Linked DNA regions of Homo sapiens: region 1 is linked to region 2. The links come from fine-mapping of genetic effects on gene expression. Tissue or cell type: whole blood. Region 2 holds a variant in brackets; the other region holds the start of a gene. All regions are shown on one strand. Distances are between the middles of the regions. Region 1 holds the start of RTL6 (retrotransposon Gag like 6). Region 2 has its middle 27 kb from the start of LINC01656.

Region 1 (12,079 bases), 28 kb before region 2:
GTTATTTCTAGGAAACCACTGCTCAATCCAAGGTCATGAAGATTTACTCCTAGGTTTTCTTCTAAGAGTTTTATAGTGTTAGTTCTTACATTTAAGTCTTTGATTCATTTTGAGTCAATTTTGTGTATAGTGTGAGGTAGGGGTCTAATTTTATATTTTTCCTTTGGGTATCTCAGGAAGGACCCTTCATTGCCCATTGAACTGTCTTGGCACCCTGTTTGAAAATAAATTAACCATAAATGTTAAGGTTTATTTCCAGACTATCAATTCTATTCCATTGATGTATGCCAGTACCACACATTCTTAATTACTATAGCTTTACAGATATGTTTTGAAGTTGTGAAGCGTGAACCCTCTTAGTTCTTTAAAATTGTTTTGGCTATTGTAAGTCCATTGAATTCTCATATGAACTTCTGAATCAGCACACTAGTTGCTGCAGAAAGGCAGCTGGAAATTTGATAGGGATCACATTGAGTCTGTAGATAAATTTGAGGAGTGTTGCCAGTGTTTGGCTAGAGTAGAGTGATCACTGTCTAAGTTTCCTCTCTTGCTAGGCTGCCCCTGCCCCCCACTTTGTTTATTTGTTTGTTTGTTTTTGTCTAGAGAGAGCAGGCTTTTATGGAGGGGGTGCTTTTTTTTTGTCTGCACCCATTGGCATTTCGGGGTTGCCAGCTTCTTCAGCTCCAAGTCTGGGTTATATGATGCAAAAGAAAACTCGAGGAACTCACCACAGTGTTATTCCTTAGGTCCTGAGGTGCCTTCTCTCCACCTACTGCATCTTGTGGTTTTTTTTTTTCAAAGCTGTTTTTCGATACGTTTTCTGCAAAGAATAGGCATGAGTGCATCTACTCCATCTCACTGGAAATGGAAATCAACTACATTTTCTTTTAAAAGGTACTTTTTCACAGGTACCTGATCTTGGTACAATATGGCTTTTTCTCCACAATCTGTTCTTTTCACAAATATTATTCCTTCCTTGTTCTCACTGAGCATCCCAAATATACTTACTTTAAAGTCTGTTTTTTTCAGACTCTTCTATTATTTTAATTTCCTCTGGAGTTAATTCACCTTACAGTTATTGATTTTTCTTGACTATTATTCTTAGCATAAGATGTCTTCATGGGCTTCAGAATTTTGAATCTCAGACTCATTTTGTGTTGAAAGACTTTGTCTCTCTTTCTCTCTTGGTACTCCCTTCCCCCATCTAGCAGTTTGGGGTGGGTCCACTTGATGTCTGGTCTGTGGTAAAGAAATATATATATATACACACACATATATGCATATTATATATACACACACATACACATATACATACATATATACATATATGTGTATAATATATATGTGTATATATATTTTGTTGGTGGTTTGGAATCCTGACCCTCTTGGTCTACTTGTTAAACCAGGGGACAAGAGATTAAGATGACTATATCTGTGTTCTCCTTTGACCCAGGGCCACACTTTCACATAAACTGTCACACCCCACCCCCATGAAATGACTGAATCCAATTTTTCAGACTTTTTTTCTGACACAGGGGTGACTCCTCTCTCCTCCATCCCCTGGATTCAAATAGGAAGCCTGGCTGTGTTCCCAGCCTTGGGTCCCTATTATGTCTCAGGTCCAGAGCCCGGCAGGCCCACGTCAATACTCAGAAGTTTGTGTTTCTGGACCATTGTGAAGTTTATCTTGTTTATCGATTGGAGCCCACTTATATCCTTTCAATATTTTCTTTGCATATTTTATTGTTCTGTGTTCACAGCCCAGACAGGCACCTCAGGGCATGAATCATAGCTTCATCTGGATGAGAAGCCAAATATTCTTCTCCTGTTTTTACTTTTAAAAGTCCATTAATTTTTATTTTGCTCTATTTTATGGGCTGCCATCTAATTTCCCCTTGGAAGTAAAGTGAAATACAGATAAATTATTTATTTCTTTAAATGTTTTATCATTTCTGAAATTGGGGTGCATCTTATATTCAATGCACCTGGGAATTTAAGATTCATGGTGTCAACCACACTTAGAATTGCAGCAGACACTTCACTAATGTGCCCAGTATCCAGGGGCCTAGACAGACAGAGAGACAGAGAGACAGATGGAGTGACTCCCACGAGTGGATGGGATTCCTCTGTGTGTTTAGAAGAACCTGGAGGGGTAGAAGGCTGCAGGCTCATTTCTGCTTTTGAAGTCATTGACCTCAGTCAAGGTTAACACAGCTCCTGCCCCCATCTGATTTAGAAGGTCTCATGGAAGAAGTTTAAGGACACACAGTCTTCTTTATTTCCCTCTTGCTTCATGCTCTAGAAGTTTTCACCTGGTCACAAAGGGTGCACACTTTGGCACACTGGGGTACAAGTATCCTTTCCAAGTTCTGACACTGTAGTTGTGGGACCAGCCCAAACTGGGCCTACCCTGTTGGTAACAAAATGTCAAGCTGCCTTTTAGGTAGAACAGAGCCCAAAACTGCAAGTCATGTAGCCTGGGCATGTGCCGTAGAAAAAACTTTGACCTCCAACAACACCCAGAACCAATGATTCGTCCTCTTAGAACCAAGAAGACTGGGACATGACCAGAAGTTGAAAACCAGAACTCATTCACAAGCAAAGGGGTCCATCAGCCTGGAAGGTCTGGGGCTAAAATCTACTTTAATATACATTACCACATATGGTCAAATTTGAAGCCCTCCAATCAGACCCTGGCAAGCCAGCATTGATAAATACTTTCTCTTGCCACCTGATCCCTTAAAACTTGCCCCATACCTCAAATCAGGGAGACGGATTTGAGCCCACCTCCTCTCTCCTTGCTGGTCAGTTTTGCAATAAAGCTTTTCTTTTCTCAAAAGCTGGTGCCATATGTATCGGCTTCCGTGTGCATCAGGCAGCAAGACCACTTGCTCAGTAACAACATCCTTATGCCCTAATTCCCTTGAGTGAAAACTGCAGGTCTGAGTGAATCCAGCTCTGTCCCAGGCCTGCCTAAAGAGTGCAGATGGTTCCCAGCTTCAGCCTCCTTGAATACTGTGTCCTCAAAAGACTGGCATACTGGGTATTGTTAACTGAAGAATGACGAGGTTCATAAACCTGGAAAGGAGAGTTTTATTTATCATAAAAGGTTGCACCCTGCAGAGTGGCCATTTGAATAGGCTGGGAAGTGTAGCCTCTGGCCAGAAGCCATAAACAGGCACTTCAAGGGTTGGAAGAGTAAGACAGGAATTTATGTTGATCAGGGTGGCCAAATATACATATTCAATAAGCTACAGGAGGAGTTATAAATATTTATGAGAAGAGAAATATGCACATGTGCAACTGAGCTTCATCCCCCTTCATGGGTAGCACCTACAAAAAATGGCAGTGTTAGCGTGATCTGAAGGTGGAGTTTTCAGCCCTCTAATGTCAAAAGGTGTATCAGAGGACACAAAAGCTTTCACTGCACATCCTCCACAGGCTGGCCAGAACCACTCCAGGGTTGGTGGTCTCTTACTAGGAAAGAATGCTGGTCAGTTGTTGTGTGCCACAAAAAGGGAGGGGCAGTGTCAGATGGTTGGTTGGTATCAATGTTGAAGTCTTTCAAAGAGGCTTGTTTCTGTTTAACTCTTAAGGAAAAAAGCCTAATGGTGGTTATCGGTTATGGAGCGGGGGCAGATAATGAAGTGTGTCCAACCTCCCATCCCATCATGGCCAGGAACTCGGCTTCCCAGGTTTCTCTGGGGTCCCCTGGCCAAGAGGGGGTCTGTTCAGTTGGTTGGGGGGGGGGGGCTTAAATTTTTATTTTTATTTCTCAGTATCTTTTCTCTCCAGCCATGCCAGCTTGAAACTGACCATGCAGAAGGATCACCTAGGTCAAGCTGGGAATCCAGACCCGGAATCAAACAGTTCTTACCCTTTGGCCAGTGTATTAGTCTGTTTTCACGCTGCTGATAAAGACATACCTGAGACTGGGCAATTTACAAAAGAAAGAGGTTTATTGGACTTACAGTTCTGTGTGGTGGGGAGGCTCACAATGACGGCAGAAGGTGAAAGGCACGGAGGAGCAAGTCAGGTCTTACATGGATGGCGGCAGGCAAAGAGAGAACTTGTGCAGGGAAACTTCCCTTTTTTTTTTTTTTAATTTTTTTTTGAGATGGACTTTTGCTCTGTTGCCCAGGCTGGAGTACAGTGGTGCAATGTCTGCTCACTGCAAGCTCCGCCTCCTGGGTTCACGCCATTCTCCTGGCTCAGCCTCCCAAGTAGCTGGGACTACAGGCGCCCACCACCACGCCTGGCTAATTTTTTGTATTTTTAGTAGAGACGGGGTTTCACCATGTTAGCCAGGATGGTCTCGATCTCCTGACCTCGTGATCCACCCGCCTTGGCCTCCCAAAGTGCTGGGAGTACAGACGTGAGCCATTGTGCCCGGCCGGAAACTTCCCTTTTTAAAACCATCAGATCTCTTGAGACTCACTCACTATCACAAGAAGAGTGCAGAAAAGACCTGCCCACATAATTCGATCACCTTCCACCAGGTTCCTCCCACGATGTGGGAATTGTGGGAGTTACGACTCAAGATGAGATTTGGGTGGAGACACAGCCAAACCATATCAGCCAGGTATCTTCACTCCTTGGTATTTACTCTGGGGAACCCAGCAGAGAAAAGGGTGGGGATTTATATACAAGTGTAGTTTATAAAACTTTAGCATGGTAAACAAGATAAGGATCTATCAAAAAGGGCATGGCTAAATACTTTGCGGTACAGGAGTTCCATGGACCACAGGCAATAACTGAAAATCATGCTTCTGAACTATCTTTAATAGGAAAATGCTCAAAATTCAATGTGCTGTTATGGTTACAAAATATTCATAAGGTAAAAAATATTTTGTAGAACATATCATAGAAAAATGACTGGATGGAAGTACAGAAATATTACTATCTCTACGTTACATATATATGTATTACTATTTGCTATCTTTAGGTGGAGGGAGTCTGAGTAGTATAAAGTTTTTTTTACTTCTCTTACATCAAGATTTGTTACATTAAATTTATATTCAAATCACAATAAGGGCCTGATGCAGTGGCTCACGCCTGTAATCCCAGAACTTTGGGAGGCCAAGGCAGGCGGATGCCCTGAGGTCAGGAGTTGGAGACTGGCCAGGCCAACAAGGTGAAACCCCGTCTCTACTAAAAATACAAAAATTAGCCGGGCATGGTAGCACGCGCCTGTAATCCCAGTTACTTGGGTGGCTGAGGCAGAAGAATCGCTTGAACCCGGGAGGCGGAGGTTGCAGTGACTCAGGATCGCGCCACTGCACTCCAGCCTAGGCGACAGAGCGAGACTCCGTCTCAAAAAAAAAAAAAAATAAGAAGAACAGTAAATCATCAAAAAAATAAACCCAATGACAACCACAGAAAGAGCCTTGCAAGCCCTCTTGGGAGGAATGACTGGGAGAACACCAGGTACCCGCCCTGATGAAGACGCCGCAGCAACTACAGTCTTCCCCGATTGGCAGCAGCCCGAGTTGGGGGGTGGGGGGGGGTGGGACTTTGTGCATCACTTCCGGGGGCGGGGCAGCGGTCGTCTCCGCACGCGCGGGAGCGGTCGGTATCCATGGCAACCAGCGGGGCCAGCCTAAGGCCCGCCCGCCACCGCCACCGCGCCGGCCCCGCCCGCACAAAGGCCGCGCGGTGACCCGCCCTCTGCCGCGACCCCGGCCCCGCCCCTGCCCCGGCCCCGGCCTGGCCCGGTCCCTGCACCTGCCGGAGGCCGCCCGCCGCCATCGCCAGCGCCGTCGCTTGGCTGCGCTGACCGGGAAGCAGTTCTCGGCGGTCCGCGCGGTGATTCATCGGCCTGGCCGCGTCCCCCGCGCGGGCCATCTTGGTCACGGCCGGCGGCGGACAGAGCCGCGGAGGAACCGCGAGACCCCAGGTACGCGTGCCCCCGGCCCCCTGCCCGGCCGGGCCCCGCCACTGTGGTGGCCCCCAGGCCCGCGGCCGCCAAGGAGCAGCCCCCTTTGTTCTCCCCCGGGCGGGCGCGGGGCGGGCGCCGCGGGGCTTTGTGCAGCCTCGCCACCCACGCGCGGGCCCTCCACGCCGCCCCTCACCCTCCTGCCCGCTAGTCGCAACTGAAACCTTGAAAACATCTTTTCTTAATCCTCCAGGGCCCAGAGCAGGTCCAGCCACCCGTCTGGCTCCGTAGTCCGCGAAGTCTGCAGTAAAGGAGCCGCGTGGGACCGGGGCCGAAGTCCCTAGGGCCTGGCACCGCGTGCCCCTCTCTCGGGCCCTCGGCTTGGGGGTCTCGCAGCGCCCTGCCGTCGTGCACCCCACACTGCCCCCATTTCTACAGGGGCCCACCTGGTCACCACACCCTCTTGGTCCACCCGCGGATCTCAGCGTGTGGCTGACCTCTGGCCAGCATGGTGCAGCCGCAGACGTCCAAAGCTGAAAGCCCAGCCTTGGCAGCGTCTCCGAATGCCCAGATGGATGACGTTATTGACACCCTGACCTCCCTGCGCCTCACCAACTCGGCGCTGAGGCGGGAGGCTTCCACCCTGCGGGCGGAGAAGGCCAATCTCACCAACATGCTGGAGAGCGTGATGGCAGAGCTGACCTTGTTACGCACCAGGGCGCGGATCCCGGGGGCTCTGCAGATCACCCCGCCCATCTCCTCAATTACTTCAAACGGGACTCGACCCATGACCACACCTCCAACCTCTCTGCCCGAGCCCTTTTCCGGGGACCCAGGCCGGTTGGCGGGGTTCCTGATGCAGATGGACAGATTCATGATCTTCCAGGCCTCCCGCTTCCCGGGTGAGGCCGAGCGTGTGGCCTTCCTTGTGTCTCGACTGACTGGGGAGGCGGAGAAGTGGGCTATCCCCCACATGCAACCTGACAGCCCCTTGCGCAACAACTATCAGGGGTTCCTGGCAGAGTTGCGGAGAACCTACAAGTCTCCGCTCCGGCATGCGCGGCGCGCCCAAATCAGGAAGACTTCTGCCTCTAATAGGGCTGTGCGAGAGAGGCAGATGCTCTGCCGCCAGCTGGCCTCTGCGGGCACGGGGCCTTGCCCAGTGCATCCAGCTTCCAACGGGACTAGTCCAGCGCCAGCCCTGCCTGCCCGAGCACGGAATCTTTAAGAATCCGCCAGCACTTGGTAGCGTCTGCAGCCACCCAGGTAGCATACGCTCTTTGCTGTGTAGAAGAAATGCCCATACGACAGCTTTGCCCCTGTTTGAAGACCTCCCTTCTTGCCTCTCCAGACGTGTTCCCCGAGGAGATCTTCCTTCCGTCCTTCCTGGCGCCCTGGTTGCCCACCTTGCCGTGCTTCCTCTTACGTGCTAGCTTTGTACCTATCGCTCACTGCATGCTCGCCTCCCTCTTGCTGGCATCCCGGCCTGTTTCAATGACTACCGCTCTGCTACTTAGGCACAGGGACTCCGCCGCACGCTGACGGACCACGAGGGCTGACCCCTTCCAGCCTGACTTGGTTCATGGAGGCTCCTACTCTGCCCTCTCCAAGCTCCCCTGGCGGCTCCCCACCTGGTTGCCCAGTTCCTATTGATGAGCTCTGGACAGAAAGATGCCCGTTTGGCCAGGCTGGTGGCTTGATGGGTGTACCTGGAGAGGGGGTCTGGCTTCCTGCCCAAGATGCCTCCCAGCCCTGCCAGGGCCCGGTGCAGCGGGCAGGGCCTCATCTGTGCTGTAGTGGTCGAGTGGTTGCTGCAAGGAGCGTAGTTCTGCCATGTCTGGGGGCCAGGTTCCACTCTGCACATGAATATGCAGTCTGGGAGGCCCCACTGCTCTCACTGGGAAGGACCAATGTTGCACCTCTGTTAATGCCTGACTTCAGCTGCTGGTGTTCTGATGGAGCCAGAGGCTTGGGGAATCTGGAACTTGCCTGCTAAATAAGGTCGTGGTGGACTCTCAGCCATTGGGCAGGTCTATCAGGCTGCAGGTTCCTACACACCCACGCCTGAGGGTCATAGCAGGCTAAGGGTGGATACCAGCGACTCCCTTTGCTGCCCAGGATCTCCATGGGCAGTGCCACAGCGGCTGATGCTCAGTCACTCCTGCTTCTACCCCCTGTCACTGATGGCGAGCCTTGCCCAGCTTGAGACCTGTTCCCATCTCTATTCAGGTGCCATGTGGCCTTCACTGCAGCCCTGCAGCCACCCACGCACCATCTGTGGGTCTCCAAAGGCACCTTGTAGCATGTACTCCCCGTGCCTGGGCAATCAGATGGGCTGCCTTTGTCCAAGGGAAAACAGACTCCCTTCGGGAAACATCCTTAAGCACTTAAGGCCGGGGGGGGTGTCTGCCTCTGGCAACCCAGCCAGGGTCTTGGTGGCATTTGTAAAAGCAAAGAGCTGTGGACTGCCGTGGTCCTAGTGTGGTGACAATGCAGCACTGGCATGCATGTCCTCCTTCTGAAGGACCTCATCCTTCCTCACAGGGGGATGACCAAGAAATCATTTTGTGGCTGAGTTTGGCCACGCCCTTTGGACTGTGCTGTTCCGCCATATTTCAATGCCAAATGAACCACATTGACATGACCTGGACCATAGGGCTTCCTATCCTGGGCTCAGCTGCCCCTGTCTGAAGGGTCTTGGCTTGATTGCAGAAGGACAACCTCCGCACCCACCTAAAGACATGTATATGTCTTGGGATCCCAGAGATTGGGTCCTTGGGCCTGGCTTCTTAAGAGTTTTGATGATGCTGGGAAAAGTGACTGCGATTCTGAAGAACCGCTGCCTTGCAAGGTCAAGGACATTCAGTGGTTGCTGGGGTCCGCAGACTACTGCCACCCACTCACCATCAACTCTGTTAGCCCAATTGCCCTGCTGAACAACTGCCTGAATACAGGCTTTAGGTTCCCCTGGACTCCAGCCAAGGCTGTTCAGGTGGGACCATGGTGCTCTTTAAGCGTGATCGGAGGGAAGACACACAGCAGGGCCACCATTCCATGAATGGGAGGTGTACAGATCACTTTCTCTTTGTGCTCAGTTCTGTTCTGTCTCCAGCAGCTATATTGGTAAGACTAGTACCTGCCAGGGAGAGGTGCCCCCAAGTGAAGGGGTACAGTGGCACCTGGGAAAAGGCACCTGGAAGGTTTCCATGTGGCCCAGCCCAGCATGGAAGCAGGGTGGGAACTCTGCTGTGTCGCCAGCGCTCACTCTACTCGAGTGGCTTTTTGAAAGCCCTACCATGTCTGTGTCAGGCCTGTGCTGCTTCACATCCTACAGCTGCCTAGGAAAGGCCGGCCACGCTCCCTGTCCACACACTCCCTGTCCACACACTCCCTGTCCACACACTCCCTGTCCACAACTGCAGCCGGGCCCTCTGCCTATGGGCACCCAATCCAAGCAGCTGCTCCACCTTTGTTTGGCATGGTGATTTGTGTTTTTTCTCTTGGTGCTTATGTGTGTGGGCTTGGGACGAGTGCTGGTATGCACTTAGGACCTTCTTGATAGCTCCCTGCACTTTGGAACACGGAGCAGATGAGAGAGGGTCGGGGCTTGCCCTCCACCTTGGACTTGGAAGAAGCCCACATTGGAGAGGTGAGGACCCCATGGTGGCTCTAGTGGAAGATACGTTAGTCTCCAGCTAAGGAGGATGAGGCGCAGCCCCAGAGGGAGACCTCAGTGATAGGGGATCAGGCTAAGAAAGTGGGGGAAGGGAGATGCTTTGTACATATTTTGGGGTTATAATTTCTCTAAATTTTAGGAGAACGGGTATTGATTGATAAAAGGGACAGGCAGTAGTGTTCAACAGTGCATGTGAAGGAAAGTTCTGTTTTCCATGGTTTTGACATTCTTTGGACTGTATTGTGACTGCTGTCTGGTCCACATGGTACCCCTTTGGTAAGTAGGCTTCAGTGCATACCAGGGTATCACTGGAGATGGGAGTTAGTGAAGGGGTGACTCCCTGGCCTAGTATAGTGTGACCCTGGGACTAACTTAATGTCCTAAAGCATTTTGGTGACTTCTAGGGAATAGCAAAGACCTATTTCATTGTCCCCAGGTAAGTATGTGATGAGCAATGAGGAGGAGTGGAAAACAAAACCCAGAAAGTGCGGCAGGACCAGCCTGACGCACACGCTCCTGTTGTCATGGCAGACAGCCGCCTTGGGTGGGCACCACCCTGGCAGTTCCAGCCTGTAGGGGAGTGAAGGGACATGGCTGAGCTGGGCATGTGCTGAGGTTGACTTAGGGAACAAGCCCTGGGATTGGACAAAAGGGCCCATGCTGCAGCCACTGACTGGGGGCAGAGCTCTGGGTGGAAGAGGGAAGAGATCCTAATGGAGGCGCCTCCATCTGCAACCACAGTTGTAAGGCTCATGGCACCTCTGCTTGGAAAGCACTGGTTTAGGGACTTAGAGAGGTAGGCACAAGGTGGGTCTCCTGGGTAAGGGAAGCAAGAGCAGACTGTTGGGCCAACAGGAGAAGCTCCCCAGAGTAGGGGAGAAGGTTGGGGTGTAGGGCCTTCCACGTGGAACAGACAGCCCCTGTGTCTCTGTCTCTTGGGGACCTGAGTTTGGGTGGGGTGGCAGTTGGCACAGCGCAGATGCGGTAGAGATGGGAGGAAACCCAGCTCCTCACTTCCGTGTGCCTCATGCCTTTGCATACACAAGCACCAAACCTACTAGGTCTTCTCATTACCCATGTAAACCACATGTTAGATAAATTTTTGCAAGTAGAGGAAAGAAGGAAATAAAACATCACATTTTGGTGTCTCTCAGGCTTTCCCCCCCAACTATGGTTTCTTTGCTTTTTGTTTTAACATAGTTTTGTTGCTGTCTTCTGTAATGATACAGTTTTGTGCAGCTGTTTTCACTTAGCATATCGTGGGCATCTCCCCTTATGATTACTAAATATTTTATTTTGGAGTGGCTGTGTACTCTCCCATTGACTAGATGGACCATTGTGCCAGTTGCCAATCACTAATGCTGTTACTAACTTTTCAGTTATAAATTGATGAATATCTTTGTGCACAGGCTGTTTCCCAATGTCAAGTTATTAGGGTAGACTCCAGGAGGTGGGATTCTTCAACTAAAGAATATGAAAACCTTTGAGGCTTTTACTACATATTGACAAAATGGTTTCCGGAAATATTTGTATCCCCTTACACTGCCACCAGCAAGGATAAACATGTCCATCTTGCCCGTATTGGGAATTATCATCTGGCTAAATATTTGCTAATTTGATAATGAAAAAATAGCATCGTGTTTCAGTTGGCATTTCACTGACTTCTAGCACGGTTGAACATCTTTCATGTGGAGCGATTGTATTTCCTCCTTTGTGGATTGTCAGTGTCCTTTGCTCTATCTTCTGGGGTCAGATAAATTTGTATGAGCTCGGTATATATTAAAGATATTAACCTGGTGTGTGTCATATTTGCTACAGCTGTTTCTGGGTTTTTGTGTGTTTTATCTTATTGGAATTTTGACATACATAGTCGATCTGTCTCCACAGCACTGTGTCTGCTAGACAAGAACACAAGGCAGGCAGGTGGATTTTGTCTGTTTTGTTCATGGCCGTAGCACTAGCACCTATGACAATGCCTGGCACGTGATAGGTACTCAGTACACTTCTGTTGAATTAGTTACTCCAGTGGATCTGCAACGCCTTGGGATCCACGGCACGTGATAAGCACTCAGTACACGTTTGTTGAGTTAGTTACTCTGATGGATCTGCAACACATTGGGATCCACACATGGATCCAGCAGTCCGCGCTCCAGCTCACAGGCCGAGGCTCTCACACTCCAGAGCTCGCAGGCCGAGGCTCTCACACTCCAGAGCTCGCAGGCCGAGGCTCTCACACATTTTGTCTCAGGGTCCCCTTGCACTATAAGAACTCATTGAGGGCCTCAAACAGCTTTTGCTTATATAGGTTTTCTCTATCAATATTTACCATATTATACATTTAAACAGAATTTTAAAATAATTATTTGGAAAATAAAAACACTGTTAAACAACATTTTAAATAAAAAAAACTATATTTTCCAAAACAAAACGCTTGTGAGGAGAGGCATTGACGAAGACATTTTTGCAAATGCCTGTAATGTCTGGCTGAATGGAAGACAGTGGGAGCCTCCTACCTGCTGTGCTTAACC
Region 2 (12,079 bases):
GACTTTTTAAAAAATGGACAGAGTCTCAAGGACCTGTGGGACCATTAACAAAAGAGCTAACATCCATATCATCAGAGTCTCAGGAGAGGAGAAAAAGTGTGGAGCTGAAAATGTATTCAAAGAAATATAGCTGAAAATTTCCCAAATTTGGCAAAAGACACAAACCTACAAATTCAATAACTTAAATGAATCTCAACTAAAATAAACCCAAAGAAATGCATGCCAAGACACATCATAGTCAAACTTCTGAAAAATAAAGACAAAGGAAAAAATCTCGAGGCCAGCAAGAGAGAAATGACACCTTACCTATAGAGGAAAATCACTAGATTTCTCATCAGAAACCATGCGGTCCAACATTTTTGGATTCTTGAAAGAAAGGATTCACAACCCATAATTTTATACCTAGCAAAAATATCCTTTAGAAGTGATGGGGCAATTAAGACATTCTCAAAGGAAAACAAATGAAAATAATTTATTGCCAACATACCTACCATAAAACAATGGCTATAGGAAGCTCTTGAAATAGAAAAAAATGATAAAAGAAGGAATCTTGGGACATTAGGAACCTAGAATAAGGGAAAGAGCAAAACTATGAGTGAATGCAATATAATTTTCTTTTCTTGAATTTCCTAAACTGTGTTCAAGGATTGAAGCAAAACTTATAACATCATTCACTATGGTTCTCAATGTATGTAGAAGAAATATTTAGGAAATAATATTTTAAATGGGAGGGTAAATGGACTCCAAGGGAAGTAAAGTTTCTATATTTCACTTTAACTGATAAAAGGTTGACACCAGTAGACCATAGGTTATGTATGTATATTGTAGTGCCTAGAGCATCCACAAAAAATCTACACAAAGAGGAACACTTGAATATACTATAGACAAATCAAAATGGAATCCTAAAAAAGTGTTCAAATGCTCCACAGGGATGCAGAGAAAAAAACAGAGAAACAAAATTAGAGGAGACACACAGGAAAAAAATGACAAACTTAACCTCTGAAATATCAATAATTACATTAAATGTAAATAGTCTTAATACACTAATGAAAAGACAGGTTGGTGGAGTAAATCTTAAAAATGACCCAACTAAATGCTATCTGGAAGCAACTGACTTCAAGTATAACTAGAAGAAAGTTTAAAGTAGAAAGATAGAAATATGAAGATGAAATAAAAACATTTTCAGACAGACTAAAACTAAGAAAATTCATCAATAGTAGGTAGACCTATGTAAAGAAAATACTAGAAAGTGTTCTGTTGGCATGAGGAAAATGACCCCAACAAAGGTCAGACTTGCAGCAAAAAAGAGGACTACAATGCAAATATGTGGGTAAATATAGGCAAAAATTATCACAATGAGATGCTACTTCACACCTGCCAGAATGGCTATCATCAAAAGGATAGACAATAACAAATGTTGGTAAGTCTCTTAGTCCATTTTTGCTCCTGTAACAGAATACCACAGACTGGGTAATTTGTAAAGAACAGAAATTTATTTCTCACAGTTCTGGAGGCTAGAAAGTCCAAGATCCAGGTGCCGGCAGGATTGATATCTGGTGAGGGCTACCGTCGGTTTCCAAAATGGCATCTTGTTGCAGCATCCTCCAGAGGAGAGGAACCCTGTGGCCTCACATGGCAGAAGAGACAGAAGGCAAGAGAGGGTGCTAATCCCAATCATGAGCATAGAACCCTTCTGTCTTAATCACCTCCCAAAGGCTGCACCTTTTAATTTACTGTTGCACTGGGCGTGAGTTTTGGAGAGGACACCATCATTCAAACCATAACATTCTGTCCTAGCCTCCAAAATTCATGTTATTTGCACAAACAAAATACATGTATTCCATCCCAACAGCCTCAAAGATTCTTAGCTCATTCTAGCATCAACTTTAATGTCTAAGTCCAAAGTCTCATGTAAATATCATCTAACTCAGATACAGATGGGACTCAAGGTACCATTCATCCGTAGGCAAATTCCTCTACAGCTGTGAGACTGAAATCAAACAAGTGATGTGCTTCCAAGATACAATGGTGGGAGAAGTATAGGATAGGTACTGCCATTCCAAAAGAGAGAAATAGGCAAGAAGAAAAGGGTAACAAGTTTCAAGTAAATCCAAAACCCAACAGGAAAACAACATTAAACCTTAGAGCTTGAGCTGGGTGCAGTGGTGTGTGCCTGCAGTCTCAGCTACTTGGAGAGGTTAAGGTGGGAGGAATGCTTGAATCTAGGAATCCAAGGCCACCCTGGGCAACACAGTGAGACCCTGTCTCTAAAAAAAAAAAAAAAATCACTTAAAGTTTTGAGAATAATCTTCTTTGACTCCATGTCCTGCCTTCTAGACACTTAGGTGGGAGTTGGTCCTTTAACGTTTCCAGGGATCCCTTCCCTAATGGCTTTGCTGGGTGGTCCACACAGCAGCTCTCATGGGTTGGAGTTTGGTGACTGCCCCTCTCCCAGGCTGGGATCATACTCCAATGGCTCCACAGTTCTGAGGTCTCGAGAACAGCCCCACTCCCGTGGCCCCACTGGACATTCCCCTGGTGCCCCTTTCTTCTGGCCTAGTAGGGGCTCTCCGTGGTGGCCCTGACTTCACTAGGCATTGCCCTAGTGGGGACTCTGCAGTGGTCCTGCCCCTGCAGCATTTCTCTGCCTGGGCCCCGAGGCTCTCTGAGATATCCTTTGAAATCTAGGTTGAGGTAGCCATGGATCCACAGCTCATACACTCTCTGTGCATGAGCTCTGCCTGCAAAGTTAGCACCAAGTGGATACTGCCAAGGCTTATTGCTTATGCCTTCTAGAGTGGCAGCCTGAGCCACATCTGGGTCCACTTGGGCTATGGCTGGGGTGGCCAAGGAGCACTGCACAAAAATGTAGGGAGCATTTTTGAGACTTGAGGCAGCAGTGGGCAGCGAGCTCTGACGTCCCGTGAGTATCCTGAAACCCTCCCTTTGAACTCTGCTACCCTCAAGAATGTGGCCCTCTGGGCCTGTGAGACTTGTAGCAGATCTCTGAAATCTTGAGGACGGAAGATCTCTGAAATGCCATCAATTGACTCTGAAATGGGCCATTTTTCCATTGCTTTGATGGATAGTATCTGCCTCCCTTCTATCCATGCTAATCTCTTTATCCAAGTGTAGCTTAGCCATACCCTTAATTTTCTCCCCTAAACATGCGGTTTCATCCTTCACATGGCCAGGCTGAGATTTTCCACATCTTTATGTTCTGCTTCCCTTTTGATAATGAATCCTGTCTTTAACTCGTTTCTCTTTTCTTGTATTTTATAAGCAGTTAAGAGAAGCCACGCAGCCATGCTTAGAGTTTTTCTTTGCCAAATATCCTAGTTCATCACTTTTGAATTCTGCTTTCACAGAGCAGCAGGGCACAGATAAAATTCAGACAACTTTTCTGCCACTTTGTAACAAAGATGGCCTTTCCTCCAGTTTCCAATAAGAAATTCCTCATTTCTGTCCAAGACCTTATCAGAATGGCCTTTCCTGTTCATGTTTCTACCAACATTCTGTGCTTGACCTACTCAGATAATCTCTACAGCTCTTTTCTGGGAAGACCCAGCCCTCACCAGAATTTCCCTTAATGAAATACAGGGTTTTTCCAGCACTCACTTCAAAACTGTTTCAGCCTCTATCCATTGCCCAGTTCTAAAGCCACATTCACATTTTCAGGTATGTATATATATATACATATATAGCAATACTCTACTCCTGGTACCCATTTCTGTCTTAGTCTGTTTGTGCTAGTACAACAGAATACCATAGACTGGGTAATTTATAAAGACCAGAAATTTATTTCTCACAGTTCTGGAGGCCAGAAGGTCCAAGATCAAGGTGTCAGCAGGATTGGTGTCTGGTGAGGGCTGCTCTCTGCTTCCAAAATGGCGTCTTGTTGTAGCATCCTTTAGTGGGGAGGAATACTGTGGCCTCCCACGGCAGAAGAGACAGAAGGCAAGAGAGCCCTCCCTCCAGCCTTGAGCCCTTTTACAAAGGTACCACTTCCACTCACCCCTCAAAGGCCACACCTCTTAACACTGCTGTATCATCGGGGATTTGGTTTCAACACGAATTTTGGAGGGACCCCATCATTAAAACTACAGCAATGAGGATGTAAAGAAATTAGAACCCTCGTACATTGCTGCTGGGAATGTGAAGTGACGCTGCCACTTTGAAAAACAGTCTGGTGGATCTGCAAATGGTTAAACATGGACTTAGTGTATGACCCGGTAATTCCACTTCTGGGTATATACCCAAGAGAATTGAAAGCATATGTCCACCTAAAAACTTCTACACAGATGTTTATAGCAGCATTATTCATAAAAGACAACAAATGGAAAAAACATAAACATCCATCAATAGTGAATAAACAAAAGGGGTTATATTTCTGCAGTGCAACATTATTCACCAATAAAAAGGAATGAAGTGCCGAAATATGCTATAATATGGGCGCTCTTGAAAACATTCTGCACAGTGAAGCCAGACACAAAAGACTGTGTGTTTTATTACCCCACTTATATGAAATGTTAAATTAGGCCCTTTACAGACACAGAAAGTGAATTGGTGTTTGCTAGGGGCAAGGAGGAGGGTGAGGAGAAGTTGGGAGGTGGGTCATGGGGAGTGGCTGCTAATGGGTACAAGGTGTCTTTTGGGGATGATAAAAATGCTCTAAATTTAACTATGGTAATGGTTGCAGAACTTTGCAAATAACTTAAAAACATTGAATTGTACACTTTAAACAGCGGAACTATATGGTATGCAAATTATATTTCGATAAAGTTGTTTAAAAAACCGAAATGAGAACAAACTGTATATACATTCTTATGGAGCTTAAAATATATGGAGTATATTATATTAAAATATATGGAACATATAGAAACACAAGAGCGTATAACTTGGAAAGGGGGTAATGGAATTAGACAGATCGTAGATCCTTGCATTTCCTGGGGAAGTGGAAAAGTAGCAATTAATATTTCATGCTAACAAGAAAAGGAAGGGTATTGAAATTTCTAGGTAAGCCGCAATAGAATTGTCAAACTAAGACAGGACAAAAATGGAATAATAAAATATATAATCAATCCCAAAGGGCAAGAACAGAGTGAAAAATAACATAGAAGAGGTTAGATAGATATACAAAGTAGGATTGAAAAAGGGAAATTTATCAGCAATTAGACTGAAACTACATGGGCAGTTTCTCCAGTTGAAAGACAAAGCTTGTCAGGATGGGTTTTCAAAACTCTACATGCTGTTTTCAGGAGATACATGTAAAACTTAAGAATGCGGAAAAGTGAAAAGTAAAAGGATGGAAAAACACATACCCTGCAAACACTAACCAGAACAAAGTCAGTCTAGCTTTACGTCTGGTAGGCAAAATAGCACGAAAGGAAAAGTCATTGGATAGCATAAGCCCTTTATAATGATAAAGGTTATGTTCATCAGAAAAATATAGCAATTGTATATTTGTATGTACCCAATAACAAAGCCTCAAGATAGCTAAAGAAAAATGACAGAACCACAAGGAGCAGCAGACAAATTCACAGTCTTAGTGCAAGGTCTCCGTAATTGGTATAATAAGCTGACACAAAATCAGTATGCATACGGAAGATTTGAAATACACCACCAACAGACTTGGCCTAATTGGCATATAGAGAAATTTGCATCCAACTGCAGAATGTACATTATTTTCAAGCACACACGAAAGATTATTTTAAAATTGACCTCATTTTTGGCCATAAAACAATCTTAATACACTTTAAAGGACTGAAATCATACATAAAAATCTGACACAAGATAGCAACTATGAATTAAGAAATACTCATCTAAGTAATTCACAGGTCAAGAAAAATCATCATGCAAATTAGAAAATGTTTTGAATGAAATGAAAATAAAAGCAAGGCACATCAAAACATATGGGAGGCAGCTAAGCAGCACTTAGAAAGTTACAGCCATAAATATTTACTTTAGAAAATAATCAAGGCTGGGAATCAATGGGCTAAGCAATCATCTTAAGGAGTTAAAAAAAATAATAATCAAACCAGGGCTAGGAACAGTGGCTTATGCCTGTATTCCCAGCACTTTGGGATCCCGAGGTGGGAGGATAGCTTGAGTTCAGGAATTTGAGACCAACCTGGGCAACACAGTGAGACCCCGTCTCTCCAAAATAATAATAAAAATAATAATTAGCTGGGCATGGTGGTGCACACCTGTACTCCCATCCGCTTAGGAGGATGAAGTGGGAGGATCACTTGAGCCTGGGAGATTGAGGCTGCTGTGAGCCATGGTCACGCTGTTGCACTCCAGCCCAGACAACATGATGCCTCAAAAATAAAACCAGGCCTGGTGCTGTGGCTCACACCTGTAATCCCAGCAGTTTGGGAGGCCGAGGTGGGCAGATGACGAGGTCAAGAGATCGAGACCATCCTGGCCAACATGGTGGAATCCCGTCTCTACTAAAAATACAAAAATTAGCTGGGCATGGTGGCACCTACCTGTAGTCCCAGCTACTCAGGAGGCTGAGGCAGGAGAATCGCTTGAACCCGGGAGGAGGAGGTTGCAGTGAGCTGAGATTGTGCCACTGCACTCCAGCCTGGTGACAGAGTGAGACTCCATCTCAAAAATAAAAAAATAAAAAATAATAATACAACCATAAAACCAGAAAAAT[A/G]GGCCAGGCGTGGTGGCTCACACCTGTAATCCCAGCACTTTGGGAGGCTGAGGCAGGCAGATGACAAGGTCAGGAGATTGAGACCATCCTGGCCAACATTGTGAAACCCCGACTCTACTAAAATACAAAAAATTAGCCAGGCATGGTGGCACACGCCTGTAGTCCCAGCTACTTGGGAGGCTGAGGCAGGGAAATTGCTTGAACCCGGGAGGCAGAGGTTGCAGTGAGCGGAGATCGCACCGTTGCACTCCGGCCTGGCTACAGAGCAAGACTCCGTCTCAAAAACAAACAAACAAACAAACAAACACCAAATAGAAAGGGGAAAATAATAAAGATGAGCTTAGAAATTAATGAAATAGAAAAAAGTAAGAGAAAATTAATGAAATCAGCAATTAATTCTTTGAAAACACTTAAGAGACAAGGAGTCACTTGTTTGAGTCTCTTTCCCTAGAGACTCTCAGCACAAATGATGATCTCATGCATGTATCTGTGATAGCCAGATAGAGTCAAGTGCTTAGGACAAGTATTCCAGGCCAGAGGAAGGTGGAGGGAGGTTTAACACTGGAAGAGAAGTCTGTGATGGAAGCAGAGCCTGGAGGGTTTATAATGGGTTCTGCAACCATCACCATAGTTAATTGGCATTTATAATACCAATTATAAATAATTGGTATTAATTCTTTCTTAAATGTTTGGAAGTGAAGCCATCTGGACCAAGGCTCGTCTTTGTGGGATTTTTTTTTAAATTACCAATTTAATCTCTTTATTTATTTGCTCAGATTTTCTATTTTTCCTTGAGTCAGTTTTGGTAGTTTGTGTCTTTCTAAGAAATTATCCATTTCATCTAAGTCATCTAATTTATTGGCATATGATTGTTCATAGTATTTAAATGGCATCTTTGAAGATAAGAGAAGTGGCTACGCACAAGCTAAGGAGTATAGGTGGCCTCTGGAAGCTGTGAAAAGCAAAGAAATGGGTGCATTTCTAGAGCCTCTGGAGGGAGCATGGCCCCGCTGACACCCTGATTCAGCCCAGTGTAACCCATTTTGGTCTTCTGGCCTCCAGATTGTAAAATAATAAATATGTGTTGTTTTAAGCCACCAAGTTGGTGATAAATGGTTGTAGCAGCTATAGGAAACTAAATAGAGGCTATCAGGAAAAACTGTAGCAATTTAATTGAAACTTTACATAAAATGGATAAACTTCTAGAAAAACACATGCTCCAAAATTGGCACAAGAAAAAGAAAATCTGGATAATCTTATAACCATTGACTTTTAACTAAAAACCTTCCCACAAAGAAAACTCCAAGTCCAGATGGCTTCACCAGAGAATCCTGCCCTGCAAATAACACTTCTAATACACAACCTCTTCTAGAGAAAGAAAAAAAGGGAAGATTACCTGATCCATTTTAGGAGGCCAATTTAATTTGATATGAAAAAGAGAAGAGGGTAGACAACACAAGAAAGAAAAATTACAGGCAACCTCACGCAAAACACAGATGCAAAAATTCTAAACAAAACATTAGAAAAGTGACCCACCTACAAGGTAGATTTAACATTGTAAACTCAAATGTTACTTGCCACATTAACAGTTGAAGGAGAAAAAGTAAATGTTCATTTCGATAGATGCAGAAAAAACATTTGACAAAGCCCAAACTCCATTTACGAAAAAAGAAACTCTTAGAAAACTAGAAATATAGGCTGAGCACAGTGGTTCACGCCTGTAATCCCAGCACTTTGGGAGGCCGAGACTTTGGGAGGCTGAGGCAAGTGGGTGACCTGAAGTCAGGAGTTAGAGACCAGCCTGGCCAACAGGCAAAACTCCGTCTGTATTAAAAATACAAAAATTAGCTGGGCTTGGGGGCGCGTGCTTATATTCCCAGCTAGTCAGGAGGCTGAGGCACGAGAATCGCTTGAACTGGAGAGGCAGAGGTTGCAGGGAGCCACGATCATGCCACTGCCCTCCAGTCTGGGTGACAGAGTGAGACCCTGTCTCAAAATGATAAAAAAATAAAGAAAAAGAAAAAAAAAGAAAAAATTTAATCTGATAAATGGTAGCTACAAAAACTATAGAAGACATGTATTTATTGGTAAAATGCTGAAAACCTTCCTTTTAAAATTGGCAGCTAGATAAAGATACCTGCTCCCCCACTTCTCTTCAGCATTGGACTGAAAATCAAGCCTTACTGTAAGGCAATACAAAGAAATGAGGTCATAAGGATTGGAAATGAGGAAACAGATTCATCATTATTTACAGAGAATTTGCTCATGCATGTAGCAAGTCTAGAGATTCTACAGGTACATTATTGGAATTCATTAGAGAGTCTAGTAAGTCAATATACAAAAGTGAGTTGTATTTTTGTATACTAGAAACAAACAGCAAATGGAAATTTAAAAGATGCCATTTAAATACTATGAACAATCATATGCCAGTAAATTCGATGACTTAGATGAAATGGATAATTTCTTAGAAAGACACAAACTACCAAAACTGACTCAAGGAGAAATAGAAAATCTGAACAGATAAATAAAGAGATTAAATTAGTAACTTTTTTTTTTTTTTTTAAAAGAAAACAACTTTCCACAAAGAAGAGCATTGGTCCAAATTGCTTCACTGCCAAACATTTAAGAAAGAATTAATATCAATTATTTATGAGTTATTCCAGAAAAATCAAAGAAGAGGGAAAACTTTCACAACTCATTCTATGAGGCTACTATTTTCCTGATGCCAAAACCAGACAAAGACATTACAAAACTACAGACTAATATCTTTTATGAATATAGATACAAAAAGTCTGCAATAAAATACTAGCAAATAGAATCCAACAAGGATTGTCCACCATGACCATTTGGAATTTATCCCTATAGGCAAGGTTGATTTAACACCCAGAAACAATTAGTATAATACACCATATCAGTACAGCAGTAAACCACATGACCATCTCAATAGATGCAGAAAAAGCATTTGACAGGCCTGGCGTGGTGGTTCACGTGTGTAATCGCAGCAATTTGGGAGGCCGAGGCGGGCGGATCATGAGGTCAGGAGATCGAGATCATCCTGGGTAACACGGTGAAACCCCATCTCTACCAAAAATACAAAAAATTAGCCGGGCGTGGTGGCGGGCGCCTGTAGTCCAGCTACTCGGGAGGCTGAGGCAGGAGAATGGCGTGAACCTGGGAGGCGGAGGTTGCAGTGAGCCGAGATCGTGCCACTGCACTCCAGCCTGGGTGACAGAGAGAGACTCCGTCTCAAAAAAAAAAAAAAAGCTTTTGACAAAATTCAACACTCTTTCATGATAAAAATACTCAGACTAGGATTAGAGTTCACCCTCACTGCTTCTGTTCAACATTGTACTGGGAGTTCTAGCCAGGACAGTTAGGCAATAAAAGAGGAATCTGCATTGGAAAGGAAAAGGTAAAATTATTTTTATTTGCAGATTACATAACCTTTTGTGCAGAAAATCCTAAGCAATTCACACACACGAAAAGTAGAACTAAGAAATGAGTTTAGAAAGTTTCAGAACACAAGATCAATATGCAAAAATATATTATATTTTTATACAATAGCAATGAGCAATCTGAAATGAAATTAAGAAAATTTACTTACAATAGCACTAAAAGGAACAAAATACTTACAGATACACTTAACAAAGAAGTAAAAAATATATATTCTGAAAGCTATAAAACATTGTTGAAAGAAATTAAAGAAAATCTAAATAAATGGAAACATATCCCATGTTCATGGATCAGAGTAATTAATATTGTTAATATAATTAATTTATATAATCACAATAATTTTTATTATTGTTTATATTTGCAATATTTATTATTAATAAATTAATAATTAATTTATATTAATAATTAATAATTAATTTAATTTATTATTTATATTTATATCTATATTTTTATATAATAATTTATATTGTTTTATACTCCCAAAATGATCTATAAATTCATTGTAATCACTGCCAAAATCCAGGCTTGCTTCTTTGCACAAATTGACAATCTGACCCAATAATTTATATAGACACTAAGGGATCCAGGATATGTAAAACACTCTTGGAAATAAAGAGCAGAGTTAGAGGATTCACACTTCCTTATTTCAAAATTTACTATAAAGCTACAGTACTCAAAGCAGTGTGGTATTGACATAAGAATAGACATATATATCAATGAAATAGAATTGAGAATCCAGAAATGAATCTTCACATTTATAGTCAATTGATTTTTGACAAAGATGTTAAGACCATTAAATGGGGAAAATAGTCTTTTCAACAAATGGTGCTAAGACACCTGACTATCTACATGCAAGGGAGTGAAGCTGGACCACTATTTCATGCCATATAAAAAATTAACTCAAAATGGGTCAGACCTAAGAGCTAAAACTATAAGTCTCTTAGAAGGAAATCTGGGGGTAAATCTTTGGTTTCTTAAATATTCAGGTAGAAGGCTGGACTCAACTCCAGAAGTGGGGCTTAGACTCTGGACCAGATTGAAGACTAGCTGAACCAAGGAAGAGGCAAAAGCACTCTTAAGTCTCCATAAGACACACCCACCAATGCCATGTCAGCTTACTATTGCCATGGCAAGACTGGAAGTTACTGCCCCTTTCTATGTCAATGATCCAGAAGTTACCATCCTTTTCCTAGAAATTTCTGCATAACCTGACCCTTAATTTGCATGTAATTAAAAGTGGGTATAACTATGACTGCAGAACTACACCTGAGCTGCTACTCTGGGCACATTGCCTATGGGGTGGTCCTGCTCCGCAGGGAGTAGTACCTCTGCTGCTGCCATACACTGCCACTTCAATAAGTGTTGATGTCTAACATCACTGGCTCACAGTTGAATTCTTTCTTAGGTGAAGTCAAGAACCCTCCCAGGCTAAGTCCCAATTTTAGAGCTTGCCTGCCCTGCATCACCAGCAGTTTGAGAGGCCAAGGTGGGAGGATCGCTTGAGGCTAGGTGTTCGAGACCAGCCTGGGCAACACAGAAAGACCGTACAGCTACCAAAAAAAAAAGTTATATATATAATATTTTTTAAAGAATAATGCTTCTATGTGGCCAGGCACAGTGACTCATGCCTGTAATCTCAGCACTTTGGGAGGCTGGGGTTGGCAGATTGCTTGAGCCTAGGAGTTCAAGACCAGCCTGGGCAACATGGTGAAACCCTGTCTCTACAAAAAATGCAATAATTAGCTAAGCATGGTGGTGTGTGCCTGTAGTCCAAGCTACTTGAGAGGCTGAGGAGGGAGAATCACTTGAGCCTGGGAGGTTGAGGCTGCAGTGAGCTGTGATCACGCCTCTGCACTCCAGCCTGGCTGATACAGCAAGACCTTGCCTCAAAAATAAAAGAATAATACTGCTAGGAACATTTGTGTACTAGTTTTTATGTGGACATGTTTTCACTGCTGTTAG

What was found.
Region 1: RTL6 starts here. The variant in region 2 is fine-mapped to the expression of RTL6 in whole blood (TOPMed, PIP above 0.99).

Annotation. Positions count from the first base shown.
Region 1 is chr22:44,491,861-44,503,939 of GRCh38, reverse strand. It overlaps RTL6 (retrotransposon Gag like 6), which reads left to right and starts at 5,707. Exons shown (of 2, transcript NM_032287.3): 1 at 5,707-5,896; 2 at 6,129-11,357. The coding sequence starts at 6,384. The coding sequence ends at 7,103. RefSeq lists silencers at 5,497-5,556, 5,647-5,776 and enhancers at 7,036-7,813, 7,814-8,591.
Region 2 is chr22:44,464,224-44,476,302 of GRCh38, reverse strand. No RefSeq gene overlaps it. Among named protein-coding and RNA genes, the nearest start is that of LINC01656, 27 kb to the right of the region's middle. The variant A/G (reference allele first, on the strand shown) is at 6,665.